2 separate regions of the Homo sapiens genome follow, and region 1 is linked to region 2. Evidence: fine-mapped expression QTL. A gene starts in region 2. The other region holds a variant in brackets. All regions are shown on one strand. Distances are from middle to middle.

Region 1 (15,231 bases), 69 kb after region 2:
GTGTTAGCCAGGATGGTCTCGATCTCCTGATCTGCCCGCCTCGGCCTCCCAAAGTGCTGGGATTACAGGTGTGAGCCACCGCCCCCGGCCCTGGTTTAAGCCTGCGTGTTTGAGGCCATGGGATTCATCCTGAGCTGTCCCAGCAGTGGTGCGTGGTGGGCATTTCTGCGGGTGTGAAATTGGAACTCCTCACGGCTGAGCACAGTGGGTCCGGGCGGAGCAGAGCGCGCGGTCCTCCTGACTCTGCCCCCTTCTCCTGGGCACGAGGAGTCGCCTCACTCTGCCAGGCCCCTTTCTTTCCTGGAGTGGAGCAGCGCCGGGCCTGCACAGAAGGTTCTCCCGAGGACTCCTGCGGGAGGGTGGGAGTGGGGACCGCTAGGGCACAGGAGCCGCTGAAGGCACAGCTGTTTCACATGGCCCCCGGCCGCTGTGTTTTCCAGAACTTGGCTGTGGAGGAGTCACTCCCTTCAGAAGGAGGGTGGGTATTTGGAAGCCCCTTCCTTTCCCTGTCGCAGCTGCTGTTACGTTTTAGCTTAAAGTAGAGTTTGAACGGCGCCCCCCAGTGGTTGTGTGAGGACAGCAGCTCCCTAGGGAAGAGGCAGAGGTGCTTGAACCCAGATGCTGCTTTGTGTCGACCTGTGCTGTCCTGTGTGGGGCTGCGGAACTTGTGACGTGGGAGGGCACACGAGTGAGGAGTGTGAAGAGGCTGGAGGTTTTGAAATGACTGCGTGTTGGGCTAAGTAAAATTTTTTGTTAAAATATATTCGGGCCAGGCGTGGTGGCTCACGCCTGTAATCCCAACACTTTGGGAGGCCGAGGTGGGTGGATCACGAGGTCAGGAGATCGAGACCATCCTGGCTAACACGGTGAAACCCCGTCTCTACTAAAAATACAAAAAATTAGCCGGGCGTGGTGGCGGGCGCCTGTAGTCCCAGCTACTCGGGAGGTGGAGGCAGGAGAATGACGTGAACCCGGGAGGCGGAGCTGGCAGTGAGCCGATATTGCACGACTGCACTCCAGCCTGGGCGATAGAGCCAGACTCTGTCTCAAAAAAAAAGGTAAAGAAACAGATTTATTTATTTATTTTTTTTTTTTGAGACAGGGCCTTGCTCTGTCACCCAGGCTGGAGTGTAGTGGCATCATCACTGCTCACTGCAGCCTTGGCCTCCCAGGCTCAAGCGATCTTCCCACTTCAGCCTCCCGAGTACCTGGGACTACAGTCGTGCGCATCCATGCCTGGGTGATTTAAAAATGTTTTTTGCAGTTGAGGCCTCCCCCTGTTGCCCAGGCTGGTCTCAAACTCCTGAGCTCAAGCCATCTGCTCGCCTTGGCCTCCCAAAGTGCTGGGATTACATGTGTGAGCCACCGCATCCAGCCCACTTTTTTTTTTTTTTTAAACGTGGCTCCCAGGACTCACGTGTGGCTTGTAGCACACCCTATGGAAAGCACCTTCCACACCCTCAGCTCGGGGGTGCCCTGGCCTTCAGTCAGAAGACATCATTTCTGTTTTACTTTGCAGGCCTCACCCCCATGGCCAGTCTGTCATCACGGTGATCGGGGGCGAGGAGCACTTTGAGGACTACGGTGAAGGCAGTGAGGCGGAGCTGTCCCCAGAGACCCTATGCAACGGGCAGCTGGGCTGCAGTGACCCCGCTTTCCTCACGCCCAGGTAATGACGCCTTGTTCCAGCACACCCTCCTCCCTCTTCTTCCCGTGGTTAGTAGTGGGAAGTTTCCCTTTTTGGTTCGTGCATTGGTGAGAGAACTTGCTTTCCTTGACGTCATGTGATTAAGTAAACCATATTCAAACATTTTAAATTTATACCTGGATTTATGAAAGTTGGGAGAAGTCCCTCTTCTCCAGCCACATCCCCAGATCACTCTACATTTCTGAGGCTTCAGCAAAATCCTGTGGCACAGAGCTGTGTTTGCACACTTGGCTTGCGGGCTCCTTTGCTGTGGGCCGTGGATCACATGGTGGTCTGTGCAGGCTTTTGAGGGAGGCCTCATGATCATAAGTGAGTCTTCAGATTCATTTCCTTATAAATATCTGACATCCCCAAACTGGAAAGCTGTGACTCTGAATAAATAGAAGCACAACACGCAGTGGGCGAGATGCCCACTCACAAATGTCCAGAGTCACTCTAGGGAGTCCAGAGTCCTCTTGGCTTGGATCCGAACATGGGGGTCTGGGTACGTACTTCTGAGGGCTAGGGGCTCCCACGTGGGAGTCAGTCCCTCTAGGACGCTCCTGACTTCAGGGAGACCCTGGGCTGGCCGATGGGGTTGTTACTTCAATCCCTTCTCCCCTTTGCTACTAGGTTGTCGTCCATCTTTGCCAGCAGTCAAGGCCGAGCCTCTTTAAGCAGCCACAAGAGTCTTCCCTTGCCTGCTGCCCGCCCGCTGTTACTGAGGCCCAGGGAACCTGGGTGGAGGGCGGTGCAGGAGGGGCTGAGCAGCTCGTCTGCCCATAGGGTCCCCCTCCTTTTGTTTCCCATGTGCCCTCCTTGAAGCCGCCCGTCAGCCCTGGGTGTGGGGACCCTGCACGGATATCCTGTGTGCTCTGGTCCCGGCGAGCGTCCTGGGAGAGCTGTGCATGAGTGAGGCATCACAGACGGTCCTCAGAGGCAGTGTGCTTGTCTTAGGCACTTTCCTCTCCCAGCGCGTGGTGGTGTCAAGACAAGGGCCAGAGGACTGGGGCGTTTCTAAACTTGGGTCTCTGTGCTTGGTAATCACCTCTTCCTACGTGTTTAGTTTGTCCCTGTCTCCTGTTCAGTGTTTTCATTGTTACCTGTTTGAAGTGTAATGTCTATGCTACATTGTATGTTTCACTTTTCACCTTTCTTTACTTGAGCTTCCAAATGGTTTCCCACAGCATGTGGGTCCCAGCGCCCGCGATGAGGCTGCCTTTGCTCCTTTGCCTTCGCGTCGCAGACGCAGCACCCCTGCCAGTGGCCCAGAAGCCCTTGGAGGTGAAGTCACAGGGAGGTTAGCTAGCACCACCACAAAATCTAACACTGAGTTTCGACAGGTCGGTCTTTTTGGGGGTTTTTTGAGACAGGATCTCACTTTATTGCCCAGGCTGGAGTGGTGCAATCATGGCTCACTGCAGCCTCCACCTCCCTCAGCTTCCTGAGTAGCTGGGACTACAGGTATGAGCTACTACGCCGGGCTAATTTTGTATTTTTTGTAGAGACGGGTTCACCATGTTGCCCAGGCTGGTCTCAAACGCCTGAGCTCAAGCGATCCACCCAAAGTGCTGGAATTAGAAGCAGGAGCCACCATGCCCGGCTTTAACGCACATCTTAAAAAATCACAAAACTATTGTAGATTTATCATTCATGCATAGTTTTTGCTAGAGGTGGTTTTTGGAGTAATCATAAATATAGTACAGTAAGTACAAGTTTACCCGGAGACATGGTTCGCTATCACATTGATGTGTTTTTGGCAAAAGAGAAAGCAGTATGGTTTTTTACCTTCTTGTTAAAGAAGGGCTTTTGCTTTGCAAGGAGGCTCTCAGGCTGCCCCTGCTTTCTTCTGGGCACCCGACCCAGAGGAGCAGGTGTGTGCAGGGCCCCCTGAGGCTCGAGCTGGTGCCTGTCCTGGGCTCCTGGAGGCAGCTGAGGGATGTGGGCTCACTGCGGTCTAAAGGCAAGAGCCAGAACATTGCACAGCTCATTCTCTCTCCACGTGCTTTTGTTCCACACCATGTCCTGTCCTGTTCCCCTCGGCCCCTCGTGCGGAGTCACAGATGACCACACGGGTCCTCATCCTCTCCTGAACGGATGCTTCTGTCTCTCTAGCACTGACCCTCTTGCCGCAAAGCTGCACAGCATCCTCACTGATGAGGCGTTTGAGTTTTACTGTAGCCAGTGCCACAAACAAATCAACCGCCTTGAGGATCTTTCTGCCCGCCTGAGTGATCTTGAAATGAATAGGTAACTGACCAGCGCCTGGCCTTGCTGTCTGTTCCCAGGGTGTGGGGGACTCCGGATACCCACAGCCCCCTTGAGGGCCTGCCCCGAGGCGACCAGGAGCCTCTCAGGCAGCGGGACTCTCCCTGGGGCCCCGCCTCCCACCCTGCACGCTGTGGGGCCACCAGGGCCCTGCCTCCTCCCCTGCATGCGCAGCCCAGGCCAGTGCTTGTCTTGGTGGGAGGAAGTGATCGGTCTTTGCAAGCTGTGCTGTCTGTCCTGTGTGTGAAAGAGGATACTTTCTGCATTTTACTAAAAGATTTCTTTCATTGAGCTCATGAGACAGAATTGGGAAAGTTAAAGATTTAGTCTTTAAGAACAGATATGTAAACAGCTTTCAGGATTGTCAGTTTAAATGGAGTTTTGAATACTCACAGTGAGCGTGTGAGGGAGCTCACTGTGTCTCAGCAGGGGAGCTCTTGTGGCTGGCCCTCATGTCTAACTCCCAGTTACAGAAGACGGTTTTGAGTGCTTTGCACATATTGACGTGCCCGTTGGGCATCGTGTTGATTTCGCTTGCGGTGAAGCCCCTGGGTGGGCAGCTCTCCAGAAGGGTCTGGTGAAGAAACGGGCCACTTTGGAGCTTTCCACAGCAGCCCTAGCCTAGCAGAAGAGGTGAGTGAGCATACAGGCTCATGCTGGCAATCTGGGACGGCTTCCTGAAGAACGGGACCTGGCCTGTGGGGAGGGTTTGTAAAGGTGGCAGAAAGGTGAGTTATCCTGACGGTTCTAGCATGTTTAGAGGTATCTGTGAAACTGCTTACCTGTCTTGAGCCTGCCCTGTCCCTGCCCCAGGGGGCTTCTGCCGAGGCACATCCTTGCTGGCGGGCGCTCACTGCCCACGGCCTTATTGAGGCTTCTGTCCTGCCTCTAGTTCCATTTCCAGGGCACTTAACTCTTCTTATGTTCTGTGAAATGCTGTGAAGCACAGGGCCCCCAGCCAGTGCCCATTCAGGTGGAGAGGATGGGGGTGGGGCCCGGCACTGATGGCCATTCTGGAGCATCGGGGGTCTTGGCAGCACTGGTGAGAAAGCAGAAGTGCTCTTTGAAGAGGGTCTTCCCGGGAGACCCGAGGCCGCCCAGAGCCCTCCCCGGGAGACCCGAGGCCGCCCAGGGCCCTCCCCGGGAGACCCGAGGCCGCCCAGGGCCCTTCCCGGGGAGACCCGAGGCCGCCCAGGGCCCTCCCGGGAGACCCGAGGCCGCCCAGGGCCCTCCCGGGAGACCCGAGGCCGTCCAGAATCTTGGATTCCAAAGATCCGCTAACCTCTGTTTTAGGGGAAATCAGTTTCTGCCTGCGTGTGTGTTCAGCTAGGGGTTCAAGGCCCGGCGACGATGGCTCAGCCTGCTTGGGGAGGGGCCATTTGTTCTTCCCACGCAGAGACTTGCCCTCCCACTCACCGATAAGTTGAGTGCAAGCATGTCATCTCCGTACATGAAAGTAAGCCTGAAGACTCAGGTCTCGTCTCTCATTTTCTGAAGATTTTTGACATAGAACTGATTTTTTCCCACATTGAGAACTAGCTCCAAGATGGCCATGGTCGCCTCTGCTGGGCTTTGTGGGGGCAGAGAAGGGACTAGGATGTAGCTAAGTACAACTAGCAAGTCCTGTGGAGCCTCACGTCCAGGTTCTGCTACCCCTTTTCCTAAGACTCTATGAAGCGGGCCAGGCGCAGTGACTCACGCCTGTAATCTCAGCATTTTGGGAGGCTGAGGAGGCAGGCAGATCACTTGAGGCCAGGAGTTTGAGACCAGCCTGGCCAACATGGCGAAACCCTGTCTCTACTAAAAACATAAAAATTAGCCAGGCATGGTGGCACATGCCTGTAGTTCCAGCTACTTGGGAGGCTGAGATGGGAGGTTCACTTGAACCCAGGAGGTGGAGGCTGTGGTGAGCCAACATCCTGCCACTGCACTCCAGCCTGGGCAACAGAGCCAAACTCTGACTCCAAAAAAAAAAAAAAAAAAAAGACTCTACCAAGTGGTTAATATGCTATTCAATTCAACACAATCAGGACACACAACTGCCAGTCAGAACATCCTCCCCATAACCCTTAGTGGAGGAGATCTGAATCTTGCGTTTTAGTTTCCATGGACTTGCCTGAAAGTAAGCTTATTTGGTCATGCTTTGTGGGTGGCAACAGGTGACTTAGTCCAGACCACCTCTGGAAGCTTTGATGTCAGATACGATGTCCAGTCGCCTCAGAACAGGCCAATAGCTGTTGCATTTTCCAGGTACCCTGCAGCCTCTAAATACATTTCATTTTGTAGGAACTAAGAAGTGTGCCTTACCTGGAGGTATATTTTCTTTTTTCTTTTTTTTGAGACAGAGTCTCGCTTTGTGACCCAGGCCGGAGTGCAGTGGTGCGATCTCGGCTCACTGCAACCTCTGCCTCCCGGGTTCACTCCATTCTCCTGCCTCAGCCTCCCGAGTAGCTGGGACTACAGGCGCCCATCACCACACCTGGCTAACTTTTGTATTTTTAGTAGACACGGGGTTTCACCATGTCTCAATCTCCGGACCTCGTGATCCGCCCGCCTTGACCCCCCAAAGTGCTGGGATTACAGGCTGAGCCACTGCACCCAGCCTGCCTGGAGGTATATTATCTTTTTCTTTTTTGAGACAGAGTCTCGATCTGTCACCCAGGCTGGAGTGCGGTGGTGCGATCTCGGCTCACTGCAACCTCTGCCTCCCGGGTTCACTCCATTCTCCTGCCTCAGCCTCCCGAGTAGCTGGGACTACAGGCGCCCATCACCACACCTGGCTAACTTTTGTATTTTTAGTAGACACAGGGTTTCACCATGTCTCAATCTCCGGACCTCGTGATCCGCCCGCCTCGGCCTCCCAAAGTGCTGGGATTACAGGTGTGAGCCACCGCACCTGGCCACCTGGAGGTGTATTTTCAATTATAAATCCTGTTGCTGGGCTGCCAGTCCAGGCCCTGAAAGGTCAGTAGGTAAACTGAACGATGAGTCTGTCCTGTCCTATTAGTTCTAGGGAGTCTCAACAATAATAAGATAAAATTAAATTTGTATTAAGGCTGGGTGCGGTGGCTCATGCCCGTAATCCCAGCACTTTGCGAGGCTGAGGTGGGCAGATCACGAGGTCAGGAGATCGAGACCATCCTGGCTAACACGGTGAAACCCCATCTCTACTAAAAATATAAAAAATTAGCCGGGCGTGGTGGCGGGCGCCTGTAGTCCCAGCTACTCGGGAGGCTGAGGCCGGAGAATGGCGTGAACCCGGGAGGTGGAACTTGCAGTGAGCCGAGATCATGCCACTGCACTCCAGCCTGGGTGACACAGTGAGACTCCATCTTAAAAAAAAAAACCTGTATTAAAATATACATTATTAGTCTCCAGTCGAGAAAGGAGAGCCACACAGTAATTTGAACAGGGACAGTTTAATACTACAAAGAATGGGCTGAGTGTGGGCTGAAATCGCAGTGCTTTGGGAGGCTGAGGTGGGAGGATCACATGAGCCGGGGAGGTCGAGGCTGCAGAGGTGGGAGGATCACATGAGCCTGGGAGGTCGAGGCTGCAGAGGTGGGAGGATCACATGAGCCGGGGAGGTCGAGGCTGCAGAGGTGGGAGGATCACATGAGCCGGGGAGGTCGAGGCTGCTGAGGTGGGAGGATCACATGAGCCGGGGAGGTCGAGGCTGCTGAGGTGGGAGGATCACATGAGCCGGGGAGGTCGAGGCTGCAGAGGTGGGAGGATCACATGAGCCGGGGAGGTCGAGGCTGCAGCGAGCTGTGGTTGCACCACTGCACTTCAGCCTGGGCCACAGAGTCATACCTTGCCTCTAAGAAAAGATAATGCAAACAAACAAACAAAAAATTTAAAAAATCATTAGGGAAAGGAAAAGAATGTCACAGGCTATGGGAGTAATGAGGCACTGGTTGGGATGAGTAAAAAGAACTCTGCAGAGTGTAGGGACAGCAGGCACAGGAGCAGCCGCCACCCAGGGCCGGGGCAGAGCCCCCCAGCTACAGTCACTGCCACCCAGGGCTGAGGTCTGCACCAGCTGCAAACGGCGTGGTGGGGACACCACCGTGCTGTCAGGGCTTGTGGGGAACCTGCCTCCTGGCTGCCAGGAAAGCTATTCTGTTGCAGGACACTTGGCAGAGGCACCCCTAGAGAACAGCTACCCGAATGGGGTCGGGGAAGCCCCTGGCTCTGGCTACAGTGGGCAGGATGCTCCCTGGAGTAGGTACTGGGGAGACTGCAGGTGTCGGAGGGCCCTGCAGAGAGTGGTCAGAACCAGGAGGCAAACCTCTTCCTGCTGTGTTCACTCCTCGGCTCCCTCTGCTGATGACACGCAGCATTGTGGAGGAAGAGCCTGCTAAGGGCCCAGCTCTGTTTCTACAGGGCAAGTAAAAAGGATGGACTTAGAGCTGAGGGGCTCTACGTTAATACCTGGCACAGCAGCTGATTCTCCTCCAGTAGATTTCTTTTTTTCTTTGAGACAGAGTTTCACTCTTTGTTGCCCAGGCTGGAGTGCAGTGGCGTGATCTCGGCTGACTGCAACCTCTGCCTCCCGGGTTCAAGCGAGTCTCCTGTCCCAGCCTCCCGAGTAGCTGGGATTACAGGCATGCGCCACCATTCCCGGTTATTTTTGAATTTTTAGTAGAGACAGGGTTTCTCCACGTTGGCCAGGCTGGTCTCGAACTCCCGACCTCTGGAGATCCACC[C/T]GCCTCAGCCTCCCAAAGTGCTCAGATTGTAGGCATGAGCCACCACGCCCGGCCCCTCCAGTAGACTTTTCTGCCTGACCCTGGAAAGAAAATCAGAGGTGTTTTTGAGACAGGTAAGCTGAAGAGAGACGTGGCTTTGTGAGTTCCAGGACCGTGATGGTTCCCAGGCCCCAGGGGTGAGGGTGTCTTCCTGCAGGCTGAGGCTAATAGTTCAGCAGCTAGACTGTAAAATACAACTTTGGACCTCAGAAATGAGGGAGAAGGTAAGTTTGGCCCATGTGCCACTGCAGATGGTTAAATCAGACAGCTGATGTATAATTGGCTATATTTACTGCCCTGAAATGGCAACGGGAAAGGTTTCCAAACTGATGCCTAGGCAGGCGTTCTGAGCATGATGCATCAGTGCCTGAGTCGAAGCCAGCGGCAAACTCTCCTGTCACAGCGGGGCCTGGGTCACTTTTCACTTGGGGGCCTCCGAAGGCCAAGCGTTTGGGGGTAATTTGGCTTCAGAAGCATTGGGACAGTGCAGCCAGCGGGTGGGACCAGGTGTGGCGCTGGCCTCTCAGTCGTGGTCTGGGGTGGCTGCATCTGGAAGCCTCTTTGGGGGCTGGAGTAACGAGACGTATGCGGCCTCACCCCAGCACTGCCGTGTCCTTGCTGTTTTGCTGAGTGAGCATTTGTGCATGGACTTGCCTGGGGGGCCCTGCATGCCGGGAGCATTGCTGAAAGGCCGCCCACCTCGTATCTCCACAGCCTGAGTTTCCTGCTTCCTCCTGCTCCTCTCTGTCTGTTCTAACAATTTTCCTGTTTATTTTGTTTTCTGCACAGTCCGACAAAGCGGCTCTCCAGCAAGAAGGTGGCAAGGTAGGTGGGTCTCTGGTTCCTGCTGAAAAACGTTCTGAAGTGGATAATTAATCATAGTTTTTTAAAAAACATTTTAAAATGTTCTTTTCCAAGGTATTTTTTAAACTCTTGCAAGTTACTTTACATGGTTTGGGGCTGAAGGTATCCTGAAGGAGTGTTGGGAAAGGGGTTTCCAGGGCTGTGAATTTGGACCTGGATTTGTGACCAGGGAGGGTACGTGTCAGAGCTTTTGGTGCTGGGCCTCTTGTGTGTTCACTAAGGTCTGGAAGGGGCCGCCATCCCCAGATGTCTGCTCTATGTTAGCTCTGAGGTAGCGAGACCCAGTGAGGAGCCTGGCTTCTCAGAGCCGGGTCTGGGCAGCTCCCCAAGGTGAGTCGAAGGTGAGGGATGGGTCTGACTCCAATTCCTAAAGACCATTTCTTCATTTTCCAGCTTCGTATAGATCTGTTGGCTTCCTGCTGTGAAAGATGGCAACATACACTTTTATCTTCCTCCCCTGCCAGTTCTTACCGAAATAAACATGCAGGGTTAAGGCCCTTCCCAGGGAGCCACTCAGTGTGGCTGCCGGGTGGCCTCTGCTGCCGTCAGAGTCTGCCTTTGTGTCTTTATCTGCTTTGCCTTCCTAGTCCCCGTCCTGCTTCGTGGCCCGGCATCTGGCAGGGCTGGGAGACGCCTCTCCAGCTTCCTCTGGAGCATCCCCTCTGGAGCCTCCTCTCTGCCCTGTTGTGCCGGGCGTTCTCCAGGCCTCGTGGCTGTGGTCCTGGACAGGTCTCCCCACACTGGTGGGTTCCTTTGTTTCGGGGGTTGGATCCTCTAGCTCCCTGGCCCCGTCTTCCTTCTCATTTGTTTTCTCTGGTTTTTGTCCAGCGTATCTTCCTGTAGCTTCTTGAGAAAAGAGGTGCTCAGGAGATAAACTTGAGCTTGGGTTGGTTTGTACTGTGAGAGTGGGATCATTTTCCTGTAAGATTTTTGACGGCATTGCTTATCTTCTAGAGCTAAAGTTGTTACCATGAAGTTTAACCTTTCTGACTCGGTTTCTTTGGGACCAGCCTGAGCAACTTAGTGAAACCCTGTCTCTACAAAAAAAAAAAAAAAATTAAAAATTAAAAATTAAAAAAAAAAAAGGAAAATAGGCAAGGTCTAGCTGCGTTGCCCAGGCTGTAGTGCAGTGAGTGGCAATTCATAGGTGCAAGCATAGCTCACAACAGCCCCAGACTCCCTGGGCTTAAGTAATCTTTCCACCTCAGCCTCCCAAAATTCTCGGATTACAGAGGTAAGCCACCACACCCAGCCAAGAACAGAAACCTTTTGTTTTCCATTTTCTTTTATTTTGAGACATTGTCTTGCTCTGTCACCTGGGCTGAAGTACCGTGGTGCAATCACAGCTCACTGCAGCCTGGACCTCTCAGGCTCACTCCATCCTCCCACCTCCTCCTCCTGAGGACCTGGGACTACAGGTGCGCATTGCCAATGCCTGGCTAGTCTTTTAATTTTTAATAGAGATGGAGTTTCACTACGTTGCCCAGACTGATCTTGAGCTCCTGGGCTGAAGGGATCCTCCCACCTTGGCCTCCCAAAGTACTGGGATCACAGGCATGAGCCGTCACACCTGGCCATGGATGAAAACTTTTTTCTTTTTGTTTCTCTTCTCTTTTCTTGGCTTTCTTTTCTTTTTGAGACAGTCTTGCTCTGTCTTGCTCTGTGAAGTGACATCATCACAGCTCTCAATAGTTTTCACTTCCCAGACCTCCCAAGCTCAAATGATCCTCCCTCCTCAGCCTCCCGAGCAGCTGAGACCACAGGCGCATGCCACCATACCCAGATGATTTTTTAATTTTTTGTAGAGACAGGCCCAGACTGGTCTTGAACTCCTGGGCTCTAGCAGTCCTCCCACCTCGGTCTCCCAGAATGTTGGAATTACAGGCAGGAGCCACCGCGTCCCACTTGTTTTCCATTTTCTGTCATTTTAGGGGCTAGGGGCTAGGGGCTAGAGGAAGCAGAGGTGAACGTCATCATGCATCTTTTTCTAACTGTCTTCTTGCTCACCCCTTTCAGAAAAGCATTGAGCTGGCCGGGCGTAGTAGGTCACGCCTGTAATCCCAGCACTTTGGGAGGCTGAGGTGGGTGGATCACCTGAGGTTGGGAGTTCAAGACCAGCCTGGCCAAAATGGAGAAACCCCATCTCTACTAAAAAAATACAAGATTAGCCAGGTGTGTTAGCAGGTGCCTGTAATCCCAGCTACTCAGGAGACTGAGGCAGGAGAATCACCTGAACCCTGGAGGCGGAGCTTGGAGTGAGCCGAGATTGTGCCATTGTACTCCAGCCTGGGCAACAAGAGCGAGACTCCATCTCAAAAAAAGAAAGAAAAAGAGAAGCATTGAGCTCTTAGGAACGTGACGTGCATCCCCAGCTACACTTCTGTTACCACTTCAGCATCACCTTCCTCCCCGCTTCATCAAGTCTTTTACTCCAGACAGGCTGCAGCTGGTGACATGAAAGACCGGTCAAGGCCAGCTAAGGCATCTGCTTGAGGCCTCCCGTGCCTAGGATGGGGCGCAGCCTGCAGTTGGCTGTCACAGCCTTGTGTCAGAAACACCCTTTAAAATTTAATGTTTCCTTCACGGGTACCCTTTGGCATAAAAAAAGCCCAATCTGAGCCGGACGCAGTGGCTCACGCCTGTAATCCCAGCACATTGGGAAGCCAAGGTGGGTGGATCACGAGGTCAGGAGTTCAAGAACAGCCTGACCAACATGGTGAAACCCCGTCTCTACTAAAAATACAAAAATTAGTTAGGCATGGTGGCACACATGCCTGTAATCCCAGCTACTCAGGAGCCTGAGGTAGGAGAACTGCTTGAACCCAGAAGGCAGAGGTTACAGTGAGCCCAGATCACGCCACTGCACTCTAGCCTGGGCGACAGAGCAAGACTGTCTCAAAAAAAAAAAAAAAAAAAAAAGCTCCATCTGCAGTTATCTGTCGTTAGAGTTTACAAAACAGAGACCTCTTCTGCAGTGTGTCTATCCACATGTAAATATATGTACACAAGATTTAATCTGTTGTTTTGCCCCAAATCTGCCACAAGAGGCTAAGGAAGAGCAAAATAAACGTCGCGATTCGCTTCTCACAGTTCTCAGCCCTTCGCGCTGAACTATTGCTGAGATGGTGGGTTTTGCCAGCAGCCATTGTAGCCCCCGGGCCTGGCTGCATTGCTCACCTCCCTCAGCCTTGTTCTGTCCCTGTCCATGAGATGGAAGTGGCTTTCTCCAGTCAGCTGTGTGTGCAGAGACCGGGGGCTCCGGGCAGAGCCGAGTCCATCAGGACTGGAGGAAGTGCTCACAGCAGGCAGGCTCCCTGGGCCCTGGGTGGGAGGCCTCAGGGATCCCCGTACCTCCTTGCTCACCAGCCAGGCTCGACCTACTGCCCTGTGGGGCAGGTCAGGCTTTTTCCACAGCTCCCTCTCTGGGAGGAGGGTCCTTCCAAGTGAGGGTGTGGTGTAGCTGGAGAATCCCTCTTTCTAGGGGATTTAAATAAGCAGCCCCAGCCGGACGCGGTGGTTCACGCCTGTACTCCCAGCACTTTGGGGGGCCGAGGCGCACAGATCACGAGGTCAGGAGTTTGAGACCAGCCTGGCCAACATAGTGAAACCCCATCTCTACTAAAAAAAACAATACAAAAAGTTAGCTGGGCATGGTGGCAGGTGCCTGTAATCCCAGCTACCTGGGAGGCTGAGGCAGGAGAATGGCTTGAACCCGGAAGGCAGAGGTTGCAGTGAGCTGAGATTGCACCACTGCACTCCAGCCCAGGTGACAGTGCAAGACTCTGTCGCAAAAAAAAAAAAAAAAAAAAAAAAAAAAATTAAATAAGTAAATAAATAAGCAGCCGCATGACCCATGCTGAGGACCCTCTGCCTCACGTTGGTGGCCACGTGTGGTGGCTGCACGCTGGGTGCCTGGGGATGGCTGTGTCCCCGAGTCAGCCCCAGAAGTGCCTACGCCTCTAGGACAGCTCAGAAGTGCTGACAGGTCGTGGCCTCTCAGGATGGGCTCTGGGTTGCAGCTTCATGCCTGGAGTGGCTCATGTTTGGGGGCAAGGTCATGGGCGTTTAAGAGCAGCGACTGGCCAAGAACATGATCTGTATCAGCAGCAGCTTTTGAGAATCTGATGAAATCCCCAGAGCCCCAGAAGGGCACCGGTGTGTTCCAGCTGGTGCACGTTCACAGGGCTTGTCTCCTCAGAGCGTTTATGGGGAAAAAGATGGAAATGTTCAAGCCCAGTCCGTACTGAGAAGCAAATCGAACTTCATACACTTGGTAGACATTTTCAGTGGAAAAATATTAACATTTTATGGAATTCTTACTCTGCTACGTCCCTAGCCAAGCTGTTTGTATGCATGACCTTGGTTAAACCTCAGTTGCCTCTAGACCCCCATTTCATAGGCAAGGAAGCTGGGAGAGGGTCCCCCCATTTCATAGGCAAGGAAACTCGGAGAGGGTCCCCCCATTTCATAGGCAAGGAAGCTCGGAGAGGGTCTCCCATTTCATAGGCAAGGAAGCTGGGAGAGGGTCCCCCCATTTCATAGGCAAGGAAGCTCGGAGAGGATCCCCCCATTTCATAGGCAAGGAAGCTGGGAGAGGGTCCCCCCATTTCATAGGCAAGGAAGCTCGGAGAGGGTCCCCCATTTCACAGGCAAGGAAGCTGGGAGAGGGTCCCCCATTTCATAGGCAAGGAAGCTGGGAGAGGGTCCCCCCATTTCACAGGCAAGGAAGCTGGGAGAGGGTCCCCCCATTTCACAGACAAGTTCAGAGAGGCTCCCCCCATTTCATAGGCAGGGAAGCTGGGAGAGGGTCCCCCCATTTCACAGACAAGTTCGGAGAAGGTCCCCCATTTCATAGGCAAGGAAGCTGGGAGAGGGTCCCCCCATTTCACAGGCAAGGAAGTTCAGAGAGGGTCCCCCCATTTCACAGACAAGGAAGTTCGGAGAGGATCCCCCATTTCATAGGCAAGGAAGCTGGGAGATGGTCCCCCCATTTTATAGGCAAGGAGTCTGGGAGAGTGTCCCCCCATTTCATAGGCAAGGAGGCTGGGAGAGGGTCCCCCCATTTCATAGGCAAGGAGGCTGGGAGAGGGTCCCCCCATTTCATAGGCAAGGAAGCTCGGAGAGGGCCAGTGCTTTTTAACGGTCACGCAGTTCTGAGCATCAGGCTGTCAGCCTGGAGCCTGGCTTGGTACTGAGGTTCCCAGGATGTATAAAGAACTGAACACGCACCTTTGCTGTTGGCTCTTCTGTGCGAGTGCTCTGAGAGTTTTCTGTACTCCCGGCAAGTTTGGGTTGGTACAGATTCACCACAGCGAATCTGACCACGTGGTGACCACAAGCACGCGCTTACTGCGCGCCTAAGTTCACACTCCCTGGAGAAGCTCCTGCCCCAAGGCCGCAGCCTATGGGCCTTTGCGTCTACTCAGGACCATGAGGCTGTGTCCCCGAGCCTGGCCCGGGTAGTAACTGGCATGGCCTGCGGTGCTGGGGGCGTGTCCACAGGAGCTGGTGCCACAGAGGACACGTGTGTCTGCTGTCTTCCTGGACTCGGTCGGACCAGTTTCCCAGTGTGTCCGTGAGGGTGACACTGAGTGAGACTTCTGGGATCCACACCTTTCCTGGGACCCTCACTCTTCCTGCCACAGAAAGCACCTGTGAAAGTCT
Region 2 (15,231 bases):
TAGTTATGTAAGGTATTTGCCTTATTATTCAGCCTTAAAAAAAAGGAGACATTGAGGCTAGGCACGGTGGCTCACACCTGTAATCCCAGCTGTTTGAGAGGCCAAGACGGGGCGGATCACCTGAGGTCAGGAGTTCGAGACCAGCCTGACCAATATGATGAAACCCTGTCTCTACTAAAAATACAAAAATTAGCTGGGCGTGGTAGCAGGTGCCTGTAATCCCAGCTACTCGGGAGGCTGAGACAGGAGAATCTCTTGAACCCAGGAGGCGGAGGTTTCGGTGAGCCGGGATCACACCATTGCATTCCAGCCCGGGAAACGAGCGAAACTGCCATTTGTGACAACGTGGATGAACCTGGAGGACATTATACTAAGTTTTTTTTTGAGACAGAGTCTTGCTCTGTTGCCCAGGCTGGAGTGCAGTAGCGCCACCTTGGCTCACTGCAACCTCTGCCTTCCAGGTTCAAGTGATTCTCCTGCCTCAGCCTCCCAAGTAGCTGGGACTACAGGCACCCACCACCACACCTGGCTAATTTTTTCTATTTTTAGTAGAGACAGGGTTTCGCTGTGTTAGCCAGGATGGTCTTGATCTCCTGACCTCATGATCCACCCGCCTCGGCCTCCCAAAGTGCTAGGATTACAGGTGTGAGCCACAGCGCCCAGCTGCACCCAGCTAATTTTTGTAGTTTTAGTAGAGATGGGGTTTCACCATATTGGCCAGGCTGGTCTTGATCTCCTGACCTCGTGATCCACCCACCTTGGCCTCCCAAAGTGCTGGGATTACAGGCGTGAGCCACCGCACCCGGCCTATGCTAAGTTTTTAAACGTTTTCTTACTTTAGAGAGGGAGTTTTGCCCCGTTGCCCAGGCTGGAGTGCAGGGCTATTCACAGGCACAATCACAGCTCACTACAGCTTCAAATTACTGGACTCCAGCATTATGCTAAGTGAAATAAGCCAGTCAGAGAAAGAAGACTTCATGGTCTCATTTATATGTGGAATCCAGAAAAACCTCTGGGTCTTAAGAGCTCCTCCCACCTCAGTCTCTTGAGTAGCCGGGACTACAGGTGTGCACCACCACACCTGGCTAATGTTTTTTTGTTTGTTTTTTGAACTCCTGGGCTTAAGTGATCCTCCTGCCTCAGCCTCCCAAAGTGCTGGGATTACAGGCATGACCCACTGTGCCCAGTGGAAATGAATGTTATAGATATAGTCAAAGTTGTACTTCACCCTTTCTCTTCTGTCTGTCCTCTTGAATATAATTCTTTTTTCTTTCTTTCTTTTTTTTTTTTTTTTTGAGACAGAGTCTCGCTCTGTTACCCAGGCTGGAGTGCAATGGTGTGATCTCAGCTCACTGCAACCTCCGTCTCCGGGGTTCTAGCAATTCTCCTGCCTCAGCCTCCCCAGTAGCTGGGATTACAGGCATGCGCCACCATGCCTGGCTAATTTTTTGTATTTTTGTAGAGACAGGTTTCAGTATTTTGGCCAGGCTGGTCTTGAACTCCTGACCTCAAGTGATCCACCCCATTGGCCTCCCAAAGTTGGGATTACAGGTGTGAGCCACCGCACACGGCCTCAATGTAATTCTCAAGTATGTTTAGGTATTTTTTACTACAAACGAAAGCATTTGAAAACAAGATAGGTCATTGATCATGTGTTTTTAAACTTAACAAAAATTGGCTAGGCACGTTGGCTCACGCCTGTAATCCTAGCACTTTGGGAAGCCAAGGCGGGCAGATCACCTGAGGTCAGGAGTTCCAGATCAGCCTGGCCGAGATGGTGCAACCCCGTCTCTACGAAAAATACAAAAATTAGCTGGGTGTGGTGGCGGGCACCTGTAATCCCAGCTACTCGGGAGGCTGAGGCAGGAGAATCGCTTGAACCCAGGAGATGGAGGCTGCCGTGAGCTGAGACCGTGCCACTGCACTCCGGCCTGGGCAACAAGAACAGAATTCTGTCTAAAAAAATAAATGAAAAATGGTATTACATAGCATGTACTATCAATTGTGCAGATGTGGTGCACTCACTTAAACTGCTACACTTCACAACAGACAACAGGCTCCACTGAAGCCGTTCGGCTCTTCTTCCAGAGAAGTACAAATCCCCGAAGGAAACAAGGTCTTTCCATCTCCCTGCGGACATGTGCAGTTTCTCCGGCAGGTACTGGAAGGCGGATCCCACACTGGAGTATTCCGACCTTCAGCTGCACGACTGGTGCCAAATCCCCACTCCCTGGTGTCCCCAGACTTACTCTGATTGGTGTCAAGGGCTACACTCACACATTTTCCTGGTGACCAGTGAAGATGAGCATCTTTTTCATGTGTTTACCGGCCACCTGAATTTCCTCTTCTGGAGCTGCTTATTCATATTCTTTCCTCGTTTTTCTATCGGGTTGCTGTTCGTTTACTGTTTTTTGAGAAATTCTTTTGTGTATTCTAGAAATGAATATTTTGTCCATTAAATCCATTCTAACTCTCTCTTCCCAGTTGCTACCCCAAAATTTATATATTGGAGTCCTAACGCCAACGGGATGGTATTTGGAGATGAGGTCTTTGGGAGGTATAACTTAGGGTTAGGGCCGGGCGCGGTGGCTCACGCCTGTAATCCCAGCACTTTGGGATGCCGAGGCGGGTGGATCATGAGCTCAGGAGATCGAGACCATCCTGGTTAACACGGTGAAACCCCGGCTCTAGTAAAAATACAAAACAATTAGCCAGGCATGGTGGCGGGTGCCTGTGGTCCCAGCTACTGGGGAGGCTGAGGCAGGAGAATGGCATGAATCCGGGAGGCAGAGATTGCAGTGAGCTGAGATGGCGCCATTGCACTTCAGCCTGGACGACAGAGCAAGACTCCGTCTCAAAAAAAAATAATAATAATAATAATTAGGGTTAGATACGGTCAGCAAGGTGGGGCCCTCACGATGGGAACAGTGCCCTTATTAGAAGAGACAGTCTTTTTTTTTCTTTTTTCTTTTTTTGAGACGGAGTTTCACTCTTGCTGCCCAGGCTGGAGTGCCATGGCACAATCTCGATTCACTGCAACCTCCGCCTCCCAGGTTCTAGTGATTCTCCTGCCTCAGCCTCCCAAGTAGCTGGGATTACAGGCATGCACCACCATGCCTGGCTAATTTTTTGTATTTTTAGTAGAGATGGGGTTTCACCATGGCAAGCCTGGTCTTGAACTCCTGACCTCAGGTAATCCACCCGCATCGGTCTCCCAGAGTGCTGGGATTACAGGCGTGAGGCACCGTGCCCAGCCTTATTTTTATTTTATTGTTTTCCTTGAGATGGAGTTTCCCTCTTGTTGCCCAGGCTGGAGTGCAATGGTGGGATCTTGGCTCACTGCAACCTCCACCTCCCGGGTTCAAGTATTCTCCTGCCTCAGCCTCCCAGGTAGCTGGGATTACAGGACACGCCACCACGCTCAGCTAGTTTTTGTATTTTTAGTAGAGACAGGGTTTTACCATGTTGGCCAGGCTAGTCTCGAACTCCTGACCTCAGGTTATCCACCCGCCTTGGCCTCCTAAAGTGTTGGGATTACAGGCGTGAGCCATTACGCCCGCCTTTTTTTTTTTTTTGAGATAGTCTCGCTCTGTTGCCCAGGCTGGAGTGTAGTGGCTGGATCTCAGCTCATTGCAACCTCTGCCTCCCAGGCTCAAGTGATTACCCTGTTCAGCCTCCTGAGTAGCTGGGATTACACGCACCCGCCACCGCCCCCGGATAATTTTTTTTCTTTTTTTTTGAGACAGAGTCTCACTCCATCACCCAGGCTGCAGTACAGTGGTGTGATCTTGACTCACTGCAACCTCCACCTCCCGGGTTCAAGCAATTCTTTGCCTCAGCCTCCTGAGTAGCTGGGATTACAGGTGCCCGCCACCACGGCCGGCTAATATATACATATATTTTTTAGGTGGAGTCTCGCTCTGTCGCCAGGCTGGAGTGCAGTGGTGCGATCTTCGCTCACTGCAACCTCTGCCTCCCAGGTTCAAGCGATTCTCCTCCCTCAGGCTCCCGAGTAGCTGGGACTACAGGTGGGTGCCACCACACCCGGCTAATTTTTGTATTTTTAGTAGAGACAGGGTTTCACCATGTTTGCCAGGATGTTTTCGATCTCTTGACCTTGTGATCCGCCCACCTTGCCTCCCAAAGTGCTGGGATTATAGGCTGAGCAACCGCGCCCGGCCTAAATTTTCTATTTTTTAGTAGATACGGGGTTTCACCATCTTGGCCAGGCTGGTCTTGAACTCCTGACCTCGTGATCCACCCGCCTCGGCCTCCCAAAGTGCTGGAATTACAGGCATGAGCTCCCACGCCCAGCCCAAAAGAGACAATCTTTCTCCAACATGTGAGGACAGAGTGAGAAGATGGAGGCTATGCTTTGAATGTTTATACCCTCCAAAACGCATGTTGAGGCCAAGTGTGGTGACTCATGCCAATAATCCCAGCACTTTGGGAGGCCGAGGTGGGCGGATCACTTGAGGTCAGGAGTTTGAGACCAGCTTGACCAACATGGTGAAACCCCGGTCTCTACTAAAAATACAAAAAATTAGCCGGCCTTGGTGGCATACGCCTGTAATCCCAGCTACTCAGGAGGCTGAGGTAGGGGAATCACTTGAACCCGGGAGGCGGAGGTTGCAGTGACCAGAGATCGCGCCATTGCACTCCAGCCTGGGCGACAGAGTGAGACTCCATATCAAAAAAAAAAAAAAGATAATAAGGTGCTGCAGATCTGTGGTCTCAGCTACTGGAGAGGCTGAGGTGGGAGGATCTCTCTTCTATTTTTATTTTTTATTTTGGAGACGGAGTCTTGCTCTATCATCCAGGCTGGAGTGCAATGGTGCAATCTTGGCTCGCTGCAAGCTCTGCCTCCCGGGTTCACGCCTTTCTCCTGCCTCAGCCTCCCAAATAGCTGGGACTACAGGTGCCTGCCACCACACCTGGCTAATTTTTGTTTTTTTGTATTTTTAGTAGAGACGGGGTTTCACCGTGTTAGCCAGGATGGTCTCCATTTTCTGACCTCGTGATCCGCCCGCCTCAGCCTCCCACAGTCCTGGGATTACAGGCATGAGCTACCACACCTGGCCTAAGGTGGGAGGATCTCTTGAGCCTAGGAGGTTGAGGCTGCCGTGAGCTATGGTCGCACCACTGCACTGCAGCCTGGGCAACAGAGCAAAACCCTGTCTCGGGGAAAAAAAAGAAAAGAAAAGAAAAGAAGGAACTGCTACAGCCCACAGCCTACAAAGGGGACACAGATAGTAGCTCTGAACAGCAGACGGATAGACGGGAACTTGTCCCTTTAGTCTTTCATGAACAGCCTCTAACTGGTCCAGGCAGGGAGGTGCAGGCTTCCAGGCTGTGGTTCCATGGAGGACACCAGCCGGGCACGCAATGGACGTTTTCCAGCCCTAGCACAGACAGAGCGTGCGGGCCCCTGCTCTCAGAAAGCCAGCCTTCTGCCTCTGGCAGCGCCGGCACATAAAAGCAGAGGGAGCCTGCTGTCTCTGCCTCGCCCACACTAACACCCCTATTTAGAAAGGTTGACACATCACTATCACTGCTTCTGAAAATTTTATCCGGCCGAAGGCATCAGCCCAAATTTGAATTCTTGCCAAAGCTGCTGGTGATTTCGTTCTTTGAATGCAGTATCTTCCTCATGAACACGTACAGCTCTTACAAGAAAATGAGAATACGGTTTGGGGAGGAGGATCCCTCACATTCCTTTTCCTAATGCCAGCCTCGCGAAGTCTGGTCCCATGTACCCTGGGATTCTGCCACGGAAGATGACTCACTTAATTAACACGCTGCTCCTGACCGTACACTTGGAAGCAGAGGTTCCGTTCCTTTGGTTCTTGCCAAAGCTGCTTACGAAACCATATCTTGTGTTGGTGCCCATGGTGTGTAAAAATACAAGTTCATCATTTCCCTGATACAAATTATGACAGGCTAAATTTAGTGCCTCACCTGTCCTAACTAGCTTTCCCACCATCATGCCTGCCGCCGGGCTGTGGTCCTTTCTGAGGTCCCGTGTCCCTCTGAGGACAGGGACACCCAGACACAGAGGTCAGTTGTCAGACGCGGCCACGGTGCTCGGGAGGCTGGCTGCAGACGGGCGATTCACCCTGGGTGTCTTCTTGAGTCTTATTTTTTGTAGAGACGAGGTCTCGCTTTGGTGCTCAGGCTGGTCTCAATCTCCTGGGCGCAAGCGATCCTCCCGCTTGGGCGTGGGCCAGCGCGCCCGTCCCAACGCTGGGAGTCCCGGAGATCTTGGTCACAGGCTTAAGGGAAAGGCCTAGCGCGTGGCCGCGCGTGCCTCTGGTTTCAAGGGACATGGACTGCGTGTCTGGGGCCCCTCCGCACTCCGTGTCAGACCCTGCGTCCCCCGGGTCCGCGCGGGACCCGGGCAGGGCGTCGCCCTCTGCGGCGTCTGCGCCCCGCGAACCCTGGGGCACCTGCAACCCCTGGGCCGCGGAGCCAGGCGTGCGCCGCCTCCTGGTCTCATCAACGTGAGAACGCTTTACCCCCGAAGAGCTCAGCTCCTAGGGGGCTATGTCCCTTTGCGTCTCTCGCTCGCCAGGCGGTGCCGTTTACTCGACCGCACCATGCGTGGGTAGCGGTCGCGCCCGCTGGTAGCTGTGCGGCGGGAACACGTTCTAAGTAAGGCCTGACTCCGCGCGCCTCTTGCCAGGGACGTCACGTCACGCCTCCACTCGCAGCCTCGGAGCACCCCCGCGTCCCGCGCCCGAAGCTCGGGACCCCCGCTCTGGCGAAACGAGGAATATGACATACAGCAAAACACCCCTTCGCGGCCGCTGCACTGCCGCGACACACCCGGCGCCTGCCTCTACAGCAAGCCGGCGAGGGGCTGGGACCCCGCCGGGACGTGCTGACGTCAGGCCCGACGGGGGGCGGGGCCTGGGCGGCGGCGGCGTTAGTTCTCCGGGTACCTCAGGCGCCTCAGCCTCCTTAGTCTCCTCATCCTGCTTCACAGGCTCCGCGGCCTCCGGCCTCCTCGGCCCCCGTCCCCCGGCCTCCTCGGCCCCCGTCCCCCGCCATCCGCCGCCCGGATCCTCGCCGCCCTCCCTAGGCCGCCCCGCCGCCATGGGCCTGCGCCCGCCGCGCCGCCGGGCCGAGGGCAGCTGAGGCGCGGTGCGAAGATGGGCGAGGACAGAGCAGGGCCCGAGCGCCAGCCCCAGCAGCCCGGGCGCCCCGCGCGCGCCCGCCCGCGCCGCCGAGGGGATGCCCGCGCCCGCCGCCGCGCCCTGAGCGCCTTTGTCTGCCGCCCGCGCCCTTCCGCACCACTAGCCTCTCGGGAGCATGGCGTCGGCCCCGCCGGCCTCGCCCCCGGGCTCGGAGCCGCCGGGGCCCGACCCGGAGCCGGGCGGGCCGGACGGGCCGGGGGCGGCACAACTGGCTCCGGGCCCTGCGGAGCTACGCCTCGGAGCGCCCGTCGGCGGCCCCGACCCGCAGTCCCCGGGCCTGGATGAGCCTGCGCCCGGGGCCGCTGCAGATGGCGGGGCGCGTTGGAGCGCCGGGCCGGCCCCGGGGCTGGAGGGAGGCCCGCGAGACCCCGGGCCGTCCGCCCCGCCGCCGCGCTCCGGCCCGCGGGGGCAGCTTGCGAGCCCCGACGCCCCGGGCCCAGGGCCGCGCTCCGAAGCGCCGCTTCCAGAACTCGACCCGTTGTTCTCCTGGACTGAGGAGCCCGAGGAGTGTGGCCCCGCGAGCTGCCCGGAGAGCGCGCCTTTCCGCTTGCAGGGGTCCAGCAGCAGCCACCGAGCGCGGGGCGAGGTCGACGTCTTCTCTCCCTTCCCCGCGCCCACGGCGGGCGAGCTGGCGCTGGAGCAAGGTCCCGGGTCCCCGCCGCAGCCCTCGGACCTCAGCCAGACCCACCCCCTTCCGAGCGAGCCCGTGGGGAGTCAGGAGGACGGCCCCCGCCTCCGAGCCGTGTTCGATGCCCTGGACGGGGATGGGGACGGTTTCGTCCGCATCGAGGACTTCATCCAGTTTGCTACGGTCTACGGGGCAGAGCAGGTACGGAGCGGCCCGGGCCGGGGCGTGGGAACTGGGCAGGTGCGCGCTGGCCGGCGGGGTTGATGTGGGACCGGTCGACGCTGCCCCTGGAGTCGGGAAAGGCACTGTCAAGACCTGACGGTCCTGCTTTTTCTGCTTATTCACCACTTCGGCCCTGGATTTCTGGTTGAATTGCGCTGGAGTCCCTCTTCCCTTCTTAAAAGGAGGTTCTATTCTGGGGAGTCAGTTTCTTCCCCTCCCCCCAGCGCCTCGTCAGCTGGATCTTACCGAGGTCAGCTCCTCGCCTGGGGACACCCCCCCAGGGGGCCTGATCGCCACCCCCCCAGGGTGCCTGATCGACGTGCCCCTGAATGAAGAAGTTCCCCGCGATTCCCCCACCCGAGGGCCCAGATACTGCTCGGCTGAATTCACCCAAGTTCTAGCCGCAGAGGCCAGGCTGCCCAGACGCCTTGAGATCCTACTGATAGACACCTATTTTGAGTACAATTACTTTACTGTGTGTGGTTGACATCTTTTCTACTTAGATTTCATCTTTTATTTGGGAGACAGTCAATGCTTGTAGAGAGTCCTGGAATTAAGAATTTTTACTTTGGTGCCTTTGGGGAGGAAGGCAATGAGCCTCGGAGCTTGTTGGCAAATGCAGAAGTCTAGCAGAACTCCGTTAGGGCCACGTCCACTCTCGTAGGAGAGGTGAAATGCGTGGACAGGCACTACGCACAGTACAGTGTGGAAGGGGTCCACGCGGTCCTCAGGGCACCTGCTCCTGGGGGAAAGGTGGGCCCCAAGATGCAGTTGTTCCTGTCTACCTCAGCACTTAATAAAGTTTAAGTGGAGATAACAGCAGGGCCGTGTGTGTTCTGCCAATAACCCGGTGGACATCAAATAATACCAGTGCTCACTTTTAAATATTTTACTTAGCAGGAAATCCCTAAGGTGCATCTGTCAATTTTTTGTATTTTGACTTCTCACACATGCAGACATCTGGTAAGTGGGTGTTCAAGTACATATGCATGTTTAAGCCAAGAGGTCTGTAAGAAAAGAGGTAAAATTGGCACACTGCTATTTAGGGTGTCAGTCATAACATTAAGAACCTTGATGGTCGGGCGCGGTGGCTCATGCCTGTAATCCCAGCACTTTAGGAGGCCGAGGCGGGCGGATCACGAGGTCAGGAGATTGAGACCATCCTGGCTAATATGGTGAAACCCCGTCTCCACTAAAAAATACAAAAAAATTAGTCGGGCGTGGTGGCGGGCACCTGTACTCCTAGCTACTCGGGAGGCTGAGGCAGGAGAATGGCGTGAACCCGGGAGGCGGAGCTTGCAGTGAGCGGAGATCGCGCCACTGCACTCCAGCCTGGGCGACAGAGCGAGACTTCGTCTCAAAAAAAAAAAACAGCAACAAAACAAAAAACACAGGGTCCTGATAAATCAGGGTTCCTTGCTGAGTTCACATTAAGAAGATGTGCAGACAGGTGCGTGCGGGGCAGCCTGCAATGCTCGCAAGCTTAGCTCCGGTTGGGATATTGTCAGGGTAGTTTTCCACCTACACTAATGGGCAGTGAAATATGTGACTGATACTTTCCTGTATGGTCAGCGTGGATGGTGGTTGCTGGTCCAGGTGTTTTGCTGCGTTTCCTTCTTGCCCCTGGGCTGGAGAGCACCTTGAGCTCCCTTGGTTGCTGTTGGCTACTGCGCTGTCTCTTCTCCCAAACATACTCTTGCTTCAGTACAGCAAAGAAGTTAGGAGAGTACCACATTTGCTCCTTGTTACCATAACCCAACTCTTGATAGAGAACTTCTGTGAGGCTCAGGATGTTTCCACTGGATCATACCACAGTTCTCTGAGATAGTAGGTAAGCAGGATTCATCCCCACTTTACAGGTAAGAAACTGGAAACCCAGAAAGGTCAGATAGCTCTCCCAAGGTCTCACAGGAGTAGAACTAGGTCTTTTGGCCCTTAGACCTTAGATGCCTCTTCTTAGATGTGGTGGCTCACAATATCCCTATTGTGATAATATCTTACTGACTTTCATACAATTCTTTTTATTTGAGAAACATCTTTTGTCATAACCTCCCTTAATGATCACAATGGGAAAAACTTTGTGTTGCTATTTGGGGCTGAGCTTTCTTGTCATCACAAAGTAGAAATGAGACAAAATTCTTCACTCTGAATTCCAAGAGCTCTTGATGAAATTCGAAGGTTGGGGGCAAGGGCTGGATGACTTGGGATTTGGTGAGGATGGGGAAGTGGAAGGGATCTCCTGTGGTATTACTCCTTGTCTGTTCTTCTAGACGGCTTAGGAAGAAGCAATGTTGGGTGTGATCTGAGTGCCTGGACTTGGGCCGGCTTCCTGGGATGGAGGAGAGCTCTTGATTTCTTAAAGCTAAGTTACTGTTTGGCAACAGATAATTTACAGGGTAAAGAAAGGTTGATTTTCATGTTATGTAACCCTGTAGCCATTGCTCAGTTTTAGCAGTCTTGGTTCATCTGTAAACTCACCACTCACTACCCCCAGATGATTTTTGAAGTGGGTTCCTGACATTATATCATTTCTTCCATAAATGCTTCAGTATATATTTCCAAAAGATACCGATTCTTTTAAAGACATTAATGATTTTTTTAAAAACGCTAGGGAACAGTTCAGATTAACTGGATAACAGCAATAAAGGTCATAAGTTTTTGTACTTTCTACCTTGAGATTTCAAAATATTGAGCACATGAGAGACTCTTAGTCCAGTCACATTACTGTCCTTGATGATAACAACTAGATTATCTTAATTTTTTTTTTTTTTTGAGATGGAGTCTCGCCTGCTCTGTCGCCCAGGCTGGAGTGCAATGGTGTGATCTCGGCTCACTGCAACCTCTGCCTCCCGGGTTCAAGCGATTCTCCTGCTTCAGCCTCCCGAGTAGCTGGGATTACCGGTGCCCGTCACCACACCTGGCTATTTTTTGTATTTTTAGTAGAGACGGTTTTGCCATGTTGGCCAGGCTGGTCTTGAACTCTTGACCTCAGGTGATCCACCCGCCTCGGCCTCCCAAAGTGCTGGGATTACAGGCATGAGCCACTGTGCCCGGCCAAGTATCTTAATTTTTATCAAATTTTCAGAGGTAGCATATTGAGTATCTTCTATGTAATCTGTTTATGAAGGTAGCATTTTAAATTATTTAAATGGATTATCTGAATTTTTAATAGAAGCAGCTCCTGTTTATAATACAGATGGCTTTTGTGTCCCTGTTTCTTTAGCAATGTCATGGTGTGTTTGGATCTAATTACGTCATCTGGTGATAGATCAGGTGTAGTGTAATATAACACAGTGTTGTGTTAGCAGAAATCAGCACATGAAAGGAGCAAGTGGAGCTTTCTGGTTATATTTTTTTGAAACAGGAATTTATAGTCAGATGTGTCCAGGAATTAGGTATGAAGTTGGAATAGGTGATTTTTAAGGCTTCAACCATCTCTGGAGATTGACATGACCCCTTCATACTGAGAGGACTGATGCTTTTGTATTTACTGCCACCTATCATGAAGCAGAGATTGTAAAATAAATTCTAAGAGTGTTGTGAGAAAGGATTACTTTAATTTTGTTTTGTTTTTAAAGATTATAACTGTAATTTACATGTTATTTTTACAGTCACTTAAGCAGTTGCGTTTTAATAGCCACTGATTCTTTTCAGAGAATGTCCTTCAGTAACCTTGGTAGGCATTGTCTGTCTTCAGTACTTGCAGAAATAGGCTGCCGAAGGAAGTGTCGATGCTCAGATCTCCCTACGTTTTTTTATTCCTGCACCGCTAATGGTGGCAGTAGGAAGTTCCTAGGGACATTTGACTGCACCTTTTTGTTCGTTTGTTTTGAGACAGGATCTCACTCTGTCACCCAGTCTGAAGTGCAGTGGCAAGATCTCAGCTCACTGCAACCTCCACCTCCTGGGCTCAAGCAGTCCTCTCATCTTAGCCTCCTGAGTAGCTGGGACTATAGGCAGGCATGACCATGCTCCGCTAATTTAAAAAAATTGGCTGGGTGCAGTGGCTCACGCCTGTAATCCCAGCATTTTGGGAGGCTGAGGCGGGCAGATCATGAGGTCAGGAGACGGTGAAACCCCGTCTCTACTAAAAATACAAACATTTTTAAAAATTATTTTTGTAGAGATGAAGTATAGTATAGTGATACTGCCCAGGCATATTATTGAACTCCCAGGCTCAAGCGACCGTCCTCGGGCCTCAGCCTCTCAAAGTTCTGGGATTGCAGGCATGAGCCGTAGCGCCCAGCCTGGCATCGCCTTTTATTTGCCCTGTATCATTTCCAGTCTCTTAGCCTTGAATTTGAGTGAAAGTGTGTGTGAATGAGAGTGAGCATGTGTGTGTGTGAGCAGTTACATATGTGAGCTGGTGTGTGTGTGTGTAATATGTGTGTGCGGTGAGATGTGTGGGAGCATGTGTCTGCAGGATCAGGGATGTGTGTATGTGGGAGTGGGATATTTGTGTGTAAGTGGCATATTATGTATGTGTGTGAGCAGGTGAGTGTATGTATTCTGGGTCTACATGCTGACTGAATTGCTGAAAGGCAAATGAAGCTTGGGTTGTATAAAACAGAAAATGACCAATAATCCCACTATCCTGAGAAAAATAACATTCCCATTATTTTACTACATTTCTTTTCAGACTTTTTTTTTTTTTTTGAAATAGAGTCTTGCTCTCTTGCCCATGCTGGAGTGCAGTGGCACAATCTCAGTTCACTGCAACCTCCACCACGTGGGTTCAAGCGATTGTCTTGCCTGAGTCTCCTGAGTAGCTTGGACTACAGGCGTGCAACGCCTGGCTAATTTTTATATTTTTAGTAGAGACGGGGTTTCGCCGTGTTGACTAGGCTGGTCTCGAACACCAGACCTCAAGTGATCCACCTGCCTCAGCCTCCCAAAGTGTTGGGATTACAGATGTGAGCCACCGCACCTGGCCCAGACCTTTTTTAACACAGACATAGACACACAGGTGACTGTCTATAAAAGTACACAATTGAGATCATATTGGGGTAGAAGCTAAATTTTTTTTTTTTTTTGAGATGGAGTCTCGCTCTGTCACCCAGGCTGGAGTGCAGTGGCGTGATCTTGGCTCGCTGCAAGCTCCGCCTCCCGGGTTTATGCCATTCTCCTGCCTCAGCCTCCTGAGTAGCTGGGACTACAGGCGCCCGCCACCCCTCCCGGCTAATTTTTTTGTATTTTTATTAGAGATGAGGTTTCACCGTGTTAGCCAGTATGGTCTTGATCTCCTGACCGCATGATCCGCCCACCTCGGCCTCCCAAAGTGCTGGGATGATAGGCATGAGCTATGGCGCCCAGTGAAGCTAAATTATTTTTATAGATGTTCATTGTTTTAAAAGAAACTGGCCTGGCGCGGTAACTCACACCTGTCATCCCAACACTTTGGGAGGCCAAGGCGGGTGGATCATCTGAGATCAGGAGACCAGCCTGGCCAACATGGTGAAACCCCATCTCTACTAAAAATACAAAAATTAGCTGGGTGTGGTGGTAGGCGCCTATAATCCCAGGTACTTCAGAGGTCGAGGCAGGAGAATCGCTTGAACCTGGGAGGCAGAGGTTGCAGTGAGCTGAGATCTTGCCATTGCACTCCAGCCTGGACGACAAGGGTGAAACTGTCTCGAAAAACTAAAAAGAAACTAAAACTAGTAGGTAAAATACTAGTAGATAAAATAAGAAAAATAAGGAGCCCTTGTAATCCCCCCATCCATTAATATCATTAAGAGATAATTAAATATTTAATATGTAAATTAAAATGTATGTAATACATACTTGATTATAGATAAATGTTATAATTTGCATGCATGTTGCTTTGAATCTGCTTTTTGACCTGGTTTTTTTTTTTTTTTTGTGTGTGTGTGTGTGTGACAGGGTCTCGCTCTGTGGCCCAGGCTGGAGTTCAGTGGTACGATCTCGGCTCAGTGCAGTCTCTGCCTCCCGGGTTCAAGCAATTCTCCTGCCTCAGACTCCCTCAGCCACTTAGCTGGGATTACAGGCGCCTGCCACCACTCCGGCTAAATTTTTGTATTTTTAATAGAGATGGGGTTTTGTCACGTTGGCCAGGCTGGTCTCAAACTCTTGACCTCGTGATCCACCCGCCTTGGCCTCCCAAAGTGCTGGGATTACAGGCATGAGCCATTGCCCCTAGCCTGAGCTGTTTCTTTTTAATTGATAGAAATATTTGTACATATTCATGGGATGGGTACATGTGGTATTTTGTTACAGGCATACACTGTAATGATCAAGTTGGGGTGTCTGTCACCTCCATATTTATCTTTTTTTTTTTTTTTTTTTTTTTGAGACATAGTCTCTGTCTCTTGCCCAGGCTGGAGTGCAGTGGCGCGATCTCAGCTCGCTGCAAGCTCTGCCTCCCGGGTTGATGCCATTCTCCTGCCTCAGCCTCCTGATAGCTGGGATTACAGGTACATGCCAGCATGCCCAGCTAATTTTTGTATTTTTACTAGAGACAGGGTTTCACCATGTTGGCCAGGCTGGTCTCGAACTCCTGACCTGGTGATCCGCCCACCTGGGCCTCCCAAAGTACTGGGATTACAGGCGTGAGCCACCGCTCATTGCATATTTCTAACCATTAACCGTGCTCTTTACCCTCCTGATGCTTCCCAGCCTCTGATATCAATCGCTCTATTCTCTACCTCCATTAGATCCACTTTTCTAGCTCCCACATAAGAGTAAAAACGTGATATTTGTCTTTCTCTGCCTGTCTTACTTGACTTCACATAATGACCTCCATTTCCTTCCACGTTGCTGCAAATGACATGATTTCATTTTTTTACGTGGCCAAATAGTACTCCAGGCCGGATGCGGTGGCTCACGCCTGTAATCTCAGCACTTTGGAAGGCCAAGGCGGGCGGATCACGAGGTCAGGAGATCGAGACCATCCTAGCTAACACGGTGAAACCCTGTCTCTACTAAAAATACAAAAAAAAAAAAAATTAGCTGGGTGTGGTTGCGGGCGCCTGTAGACCCACCTACTTGGGAGGCTGAGGCAGGAGAATGGCGTGAACCTGGGAGGTGGAGCTTGCAGTGAGCCGAGATCGTGCCACTGCACTCCAGTCTGGGTGACAGAGCGAGACTCTGTCTCAAAAAAAAAAAAAAAAAGTACTCCATTGTGTATCTATATTACATTTTCTTTATCCATTCAACTGTTGATGG

The links. PIP is the estimated chance that this variant, and not a neighbour inherited with it, causes the effect.
Region 1: its variant is fine-mapped to the expression of RAB11FIP3 in whole blood (INTERVAL, PIP above 0.99).

What each region holds. Positions count from the first base shown.
Region 1 is chr16:487,332-502,562 of GRCh38, forward strand. It overlaps RAB11FIP3 (RAB11 family interacting protein 3), which reads left to right. Exons shown (of 14, transcript NM_014700.4): 5 at 1,520-1,669; 6 at 9,493-9,528. It overlaps LOC107987417 (a long non-coding RNA gene), which reads right to left and starts at 6,209. Exons shown (of 3, transcript XR_007064933.1): 1 at 5,238-6,209; 2 at 4,738-4,994; 3 at 4,042-4,651. RefSeq lists enhancers at 1-640, 4,972-5,593, 7,052-7,630, 7,631-8,208. The variant C/T (reference allele first, on the strand shown) is at 8,665.
Region 2 is chr16:418,696-433,926 of GRCh38, forward strand. RAB11FIP3 (RAB11 family interacting protein 3) reads left to right here and starts at 6,954. Exons shown (of 14, transcript NM_014700.4): 1 at 6,954-8,025. The coding sequence starts at 7,312.